Homo sapiens: one gene and its partner. The protein of the gene in region 1 interacts with the protein of each later gene in a biochemical or structural test. Each region holds a gene or a part of one and is shown in the gene's direction. Other genes may lie near its edges.

Evidence for each region. The genes of interacting proteins can lie anywhere in the genome.
Region 2: the proteins of AKAP9 (region 1) and PRKAR2A interact in a test that uses a peptide from one of them, tested with the Homo sapiens proteins (one study listed by BioGRID).

What each region holds. Positions count from the first base shown.
Region 1 is NC_000007.14:91,943,613-91,947,448, forward strand, and holds part of AKAP9 (A-kinase anchor protein 9), read left to right. Parts: intron 1-3,836. UniProt on the Homo sapiens protein: Scaffolding protein that assembles several protein kinases and phosphatases on the centrosome and Golgi apparatus. Required to maintain the integrity of the Golgi apparatus. Required for microtubule nucleation at the cis-side of the Golgi apparatus.
Region 2 is NC_000003.12:48,764,151-48,767,874, reverse strand, and holds part of PRKAR2A (cAMP-dependent protein kinase type II-alpha regulatory subunit), read left to right. Parts: intron 1-2,525; coding exon 2,526-2,627; intron 2,628-2,796; coding exon 2,797-2,871; intron 2,872-3,724. UniProt on the Homo sapiens protein: Regulatory subunit of the cAMP-dependent protein kinases involved in cAMP signaling in cells. Type II regulatory chains mediate membrane association by binding to anchoring proteins, including the MAP2 kinase.

The sequences.
Region 1 (3,836 bases):
TACTACTATGTCATTTTATAGAATTACTAAGAAAGCTTTACTATTGATATTAATGCACCATAATATAATGCCTTTCAAATAGTTATTCATACATATTTGCTTAATGAATGAACAGAATGATTAATGAGTCATTAATAAGTGTTACTTTCCTAGCACGGTTGTAATTTAATAACATTAATCTAGAATTCTCTTAATGTGAAATCCATATTGCTGGCATCAGAAACAACTTTAAATGATCATTTTCCAAAGTTTATCTGAGACTTCATTCTGCAAATGTCTCATTTGTTCACTGGACTTAAGTATTGTATTTGATAATCTAGTTTTGCAAACCACAACTTACAAATCTTTTTGGGGGTAATTTATTGATAAACAGTTCCATTGGAAAATTCCCTTTCTGTATCTAAACCTTATAAATGATCACTTTTTAAACAGTTTGTCATGTATGCAGTATAATATATAGTATACTGTATAAAATGTTTTATACTACCCCAAATCTGTAATAATGGGTTAATAAATTATGATATGTAAAATAATTCTACAAAGACTTTTTGAGTGTGGAAAATGCCCACAAATAATGCCAGGTTAAAAAGAAAAAAGTTACCAGGAAAAGGTATATGTACATATTTAAATATGAAGACACCTGAAAAAAAGCACCAAGATGTAAATCGTGGCTATCTCTGGGTGGTGGCTTATAGGCAATTTTAATTTTCTTTATACTTTTAGTATTTTCCAAATTCTTGATACAATGTATCTCTTTTATGACCAGAAAAGAATATTCAAATGCCATTTTTTTTTTTTTTGAGACAGCCTGTCTCCCAGGCTGGAGTGCAGTGGCAGGATCTTGGCTCACTGCAGCCTCCACCTCCCAGGTTCAAGCGATTCTCCTGCCTCAGCCTCCCAAGTAGCTGGGATTACAGGCATTTACCACCACGCCTGGCTAATTTTTGTATTTTTAGTAGAGATGGGGTTTCACCATGTTGGCCAGGCTGGTCTCGAACTCCTGCCGTTAAGTGATCTGCCTGCCTCGACCTCCCAAAGTGCTGGGATTACAGGCATGAGCCACTGCACTCAGCCTCAAATGCCATTTTTTAAAAAACATAAAGGCTTATCAAATACATTATATTAAACACATGTTATAGTGTATGACCATTATCCAGAACAGGAAAATGAGGCACAGAATAACTAGGTTTCCTATTTTAGCGTAGGCCTGGAATTGTAATTGCTATTTCAGTGCAGAGTGTATAATATAGTTGGGATTATATTGTTAGACATTTTATAGATTTCCTTTCTGTTTTTGTTGTGCTTATTCTTTCCTTGCTGTTAGTTCGTATTGCTATGGGCATGCTCTTACTCCTCATCTGCCTCTTTTCCTAATTTGCTGTTTTAGATTTGCTACGACTAAGGAACCCAGAACTGAGGTTGACAGAATACTATGTAAAAAGAAAAAACAACAACAACAAAGACCTTAGGCGGGGTGTGATGGCTCACTCCTGTAATCCCAACACTGGGAGGCTGAGGTGGGAGGATCGCTTGAGCCCAGAGGTTCTAGATCAGCCTGGGCAATGTAGTGAGACCCCATCTCTAAAAAGAAAAAAGTATAAAAAACAAAACAGGTGGGGCGCAGTGGCTCACACCTGTAATCCAAGCACTTTAGGAGGTTGAGGTGGGTGGATCATCTGAGGTCAGGAGTTTGAGACCAGCCTGGCCAACATGGCAAAACCCCGTCTCTACTAAAAAATACAAAAAAATTAGCCAGGCGTGGTGGCAGGTACTAATCCCAGCTACTGGGGAGGTGGAGGCAGGAGAATCACTTGAACCCAGGAGGTGGAGGTTGCAGTGAACCGAGGTTGTGCCACTGTACTCCAGCCTGGGTGACAGAGCAAGACTCTGTCTCAAAAAACAAAACAAAACAAAAACAGAGGCCAGTGTAGCCTGCCCAGTGGGCTTTAGGGCAGTTTAGTTTTTCTGCTGCTTGTTGGTTGTTTTGGTTTACTGTTGGGTCCTCAGCTATTTCCTCAGTATTGATGTTGCAAGAAGCATGACCCTGGGAGATGTGAGACATTACTGCATTATGTATTAAGTAAATATTTTCAGAGCTGGGCTAGCTCCCTCTGCAGTGTTTTGACGAGGATGGCACTACATAGGTTGTCCTTGTGTTGAACCAAACTATTTTAACTCCATTTTAAATGACTTCATTTTTTTCCAAGTATAATTATTCATGGCACGTAAAGGAAGTATTGTAATTTAAGTGAACAGAATTAAATAGAGGACAGTTGTATATTTAATATAAAATTATTACTCATGTAAATTTGCATTAGGTATACTTTTTAAAGTTATTCAGTATTTTATATAATGGGCATTATTTGCTGAATAATTATAAAAAACTACTGTCTATTATATTCAGTAATTTGTAATTACATGACTTTTGTTTAACAAACATTTTCAGTGTGAAGAGTAGTTCCAATTGTGTACAAAAAAAAGGATGGTGCTCCATGCAAGCTGTATATTGATTATTGATAGCAGGACTTTTCAGTTACTGTTTCCACTGTGATAGACAAAGCTGGTTATGGTGTAAAACTGTTCTTTGCATATTTCAGATACTTTGTTCCACAGCTAAGAAAGTGTTTTCCCTTCCTGTTTTAAGCATTCTAGTTTTTCATACTTAGATGTGGCAGAGCTTACTTAGCATTCCGAGTAGATGCAGCAGTTTGATAGCTTCATCAACATTTATTGCAGCAATAGTGCAGTGCCTGTGACTTAAAACTAATTCATAACCTTCAGGCTTTTTTTTTTTTTGAGACGAGATCTCGCTGTGTTGTCCAGGCTGGAGTGGCAGCCTGCCTTGACCTCCTGAGCTCAAGTGATCCTCCTGCCTCAACCTCCTGAGCACCTGGGACTACAGATGTGCACCACCACACCTGGCTAATTGTTAAAATTTTTTTGTAGAGATGGGATTTCACCATGTTGCCCAGGCTGGTCTTGAACTCCTGGGCTCAAGCAATCCTCCTGCCTTAACCTCCCAAAGTGCCGAGATTATAGGGGTGACCCACTGCACCCAGCTTAGGCTTTGTCGGAATGAAGCAAAACATGGTGTTTAGAGAGAGAATGTGGAGGAAGGAACGTGATGCCCTGTCAGTGAAACTGAAAGTTGAATGATAGCTCATGGAAAGAGGAAGTGAAAAAGGTAGGATACATCCAAGTGATTGAAATATGACAAGAATGGAACAAAAATTTTTTCAAACAAAAACATCTCTTATTTTATAAATAAAAAGGTTCATAGTAAAAGCTAAACTATGTCTACAAAATATCTATTATAGGCTACTGAATATTGAAATGTAAATGAATTTCTTCTAATATAGCTAGAAAAGGTTATGGTAAATTGCTAAACAATAAGGGACATTATTTATATTCATTTCTTAGTAAGATTCCACTAAAATTAAGATTAGTCACTTTATGTAATTGCTTAACATCCATTTAAAAACTATAATTTGGAAAAGCTACGGAATTTTTCAAAACTTATTTATAAAAGTGGTTTGGTGTCTGGGGTGTGTGTGTGTGTGTGCGTGTGTGTGTGTGTGTGTGTGCTGGAGAGAGGGAGAAAGAGAATTTATAATACTGCTATCTGGTCTGGTAGAAATGGCACTAGGACTTTGGAGACATTTATGTGTTCATTTGTTCAACCAACATTTTTGAATGCCTACGACTGCAGCTATGAACTTTTACTTAGCAAGCATTTTTTTTTCCCCCCGAGATGGAGTCTCACTCTGTCACCCAGGCTGGAGTGCAGTGGCACGATCTCGGCTCACTGCAACCTCCACCTCCTGGGTTCTAGCTAT
Region 2 (3,724 bases), on another chromosome or scaffold:
TTGGCTCACTGCAACCTCCACCTCCCAGGTTCAAGCGATTCTCCTGTCTCAGCCTCCCTAGTAGCTGGGACTGCAGGCGCGTGCCGCCATGCCCAGCTAATTTTTTGTATTTTTAGTAGAGACGGGGTTTCATTGTGTTAGCCAGGATGGTCTCGATCTCCTGACCTTGTGATCCACCCGCCTCAGCCTCCCAAAGTGCTGGGATTATAGGTGTGAGCCACTGCGTCCAGCCTGTTTTTGTGTTTTAAATAGAGTTGAGGTCTCATTGTGTTGCCCAGGCTGGTCTTGAATTCCTAGCCTCAAGCGATCCTCCTGCCTTGGCCTCCCAAAGTGCAGGGATTACAGGCATGAACCACCACACACAGCCTAAAATATTGTTTTGTTTTTGTTTTTTTCGAGGCAGGGTCTCGCTCTGTTACCCAGGCTGGAGTGCAGTGGCATGATCTCGGCTCACTGCAACCTCTGCCTCCCAGGTTCAAGTGATTCTCCTGTCTCAGCGTCCCAAGAAGCTGGGATTACAGGCGCCCACCACCATGCCTGGCTAATTTTTGTATTTTTAGTAGAGATGTGGTTTCACCATATTGGCCAGGCTGGTCTTGAACTCCTGACCTCAAGCGATCCGTCTGCCTCGGCCTCCCAAAGTTCTGGGATTACAGGCGTGAGCCACTGCGCCCAGCCCATTATTATACTTTCTGACAAAATGTATATATGTATAGTCCTGACAGCCTGAGGTGGAAGAAAGGTAGTTAACTTAGATACAAATAACTGCTTGCCCATTTAGGAATCTAAGACTAAGCAATTAACATTCTCACATGTATCTCCCTGCACATGTGTACACATATCTGAGAAGTGCCTGGTTTGGTTAACTGTCTTCTGATCAGAATCCATTACTTACTAAGCCAGGCACAGTGTTGTGTACCTGTAGTCCCAGCTACTTGGGAGGCTGAGGTGGGGAGATCACTTGACCCCAGGAGTTCAAAGCCAGCCTGGACAACATTGGGGGACCCTATCTCAAAATAAAACAGAAGGAATCCATGACTTGCTAGAGTCAAGGTATCTTTCATATGCCTGCCTTCCATCTTGCGTATTCCTCCCGTGTCTCTCCATTAACTTAAATCCTACCTCTCTTTCAGGTCCTAGACATTTTTGCTGCAAAATAATCTTTGATCACTCCTGCCTACTGTGATCTCCCCTTCTTACCTTGAAATTTATGTGGCACTTGTCTTCTGTAGTTTCATCAAGCACATTTCATATGCTCATATGCTGTCTTGAACTGTAGACTTTTTATTTTTATTTTATTTTTTTTTGAGACACAGTTTCAACTTATGTCACCCAGGCTGGAGTGCAGTGGCGCAATCTCAGCTCACTGCAACCTTAGCCTCCTGAGCTCAAGTGATTCTCCAGCCTCAGCCTCCCAACTAGCTGGGACTAGACAAACGCCACCATGCCCAGCTAATTTTTGTATTTTCTGTAGAGATGGGGTTTCACCATGTTGCACAGCCTGGTCTTGAACTCCTGAGCTCAAGTGATCTGTCTGACTCAGCCTCCCAGAATGCTGGGATTACAGGTGTGAGCCACTGCACCTGTCCTTGAAATGTAGACTTTTTATTCCTATGTATTTTGTTGTTGTTGTTGTTGTTGTTGATATTGTTGTTTTTGGGACATAGTGTCACTCTGCTGCCCAGGCTGGAATGCAGTGGTACAATCACAACTCACTGCAGCTTTGACCTCTCAGGCTCTGGTGAGCCTTTCACCTCAGCCACCCAAGTACAGACAAGTGCCACCATGCCCAGCTAACTTTTTTTGTGTATTTTTTCGTAGAGAGCGTGTTTCACCATGTTGCCTAGGCTGGTCTCATACTCCTGGGCTCAAGCAATTTGCCCACCTTAGCCTCCCAAAATGCTAGGAGTACAGGCAGTGAGCCACTGCATTCAGCCAACCTTCATATTTTGATATTTTATATTATCTCCCCATTAAGATTGTAAACTTTTTTAGGGTAAGAACAATCTAATTGTTCTTTTTTTAGGCAAGAACAATCTAATTGTTTTGGATTTTTTAAGTTTTTTTAAATCCTGGATTCTAAGGATTAAATGATTGTTTTATTCTCTCTTTTGGTGAGGTGTCTCTTTTTTTTTTTTTTTTTTTTTTTTGAAATGAGGGTCTCACTCTGTCACCCAGGCTGGAGTGCAGTGACATGATCTCGGCTCACTAGAGGTGTCTTTTTTGATATTGAACAGTGACAGTGAGCTCATAAATGTTTAGGTGTTTTCTGTTTTGGGTTCTATTTATGACCCATAGGTGGCACCTATTGAGTGCTAGATAGCAAGCAACAGCATGTGGGCATCTGGCTGGCTCAGGCTATAGGTCCTTTACTTCCAGTGATGACTCAAGATTGAAGTATCATTAAACACTTAATTAACACAGTAACTTACATATTCCTCTAATATTTGCTTTGGCCAGTTAATTAAACCATAGATGTTCCTGTATATAGGCATTTACTAGAATTTTCATATTCTTTCTTGTAGGACCGGGTGACTTTTAGAAGAATCATAGTGAAAAATAATGCAAAGAAGAGGAAGATGTTTGAATCATTTATTGAGTCTGTGCCCCTCCTTAAATCACTAGAGGTAAAGTGGCTTGAATAAGAATCTGTTCATGGGGATCAGGAAAAGCTTTTAAAACTATTCTGTTGTTAGGTTTTCAAATCATACTATTCTAATCCTATTTCTGTGCTGCATAGCTATTGTGACTTTCAATTAAGGTCTTTTCCTTTTATTTGTGAATTTGTTGTTTCAGGTGTCAGAACGAATGAAGATTGTGGATGTAATAGGAGAGAAGATCTATAAGGATGGAGAACGCATAATCACTCAGGTGAGTGAGGGCTTTACGCAGCTCCTTTCCTGGAAGTCACCCCTGAAGAACTAGTACATCATTTATCTCAAAAACTTCTTGCCGGACGCAGTGGCTCACGCCTGTAATCCCAACACTTCGGGAGGCTGAGGCAGGTGGATCACTTGAGGCCAGGAGTTCAAGACCAGCCTGGCCAACATGGTAAAACTCCATCTCTACTAAAAATACAAAAATTAGCTGGGTGTGGTGGCCCATGCCTGTAATCCCAGCTACTTGGGAGGCTGAGGCGGGAGAATTGCTGGAACCCAGGAGGCAAAGGTTTCAGTGAGTCGAGATTGCGCCACTGCCTCCAGCCTGGGCAACAGAGCAAGACTCCATTTCAAAAAAAAACCAAAAAACCTTCTATGTTCTCCCACTGTTGGGAGCTCTTATTACCAGGTAATAGATCATACTTCAGAGGACTATTATGTAGTCCTCTGAAGCTTATTGACGTCCGTCTTACTGACACGTGCAGATCTCTTGCTTCCTCTCACCTTTCCTTGGCTTCTAGTGTTTGTTCTTTTGATGTCATTTTCTTTTGACCTTAAGTAAGTTTCATCCATTGCTATTAGAACCTGGGGAAGGTTAAAGAGTTCTGTCCTCTAACTTTCTATATTTGACACAAAGGCATCCTTTTGGCTAATCTAACACAAATCAGAGTTCACAGTCTTCAGTGATTAACCAAATTTGTAAGATGTAAAGATTACTAAACAGTGGGCTAGATCATTGTAATGAGTACTGTCTGATAATTTTCTTTGTCCGCTGTGTTTGTATTTTTAATTAAACATAAATAGTATTGGACTTTTCCAGGTATAAGCTTATCTGCCTATGGTTC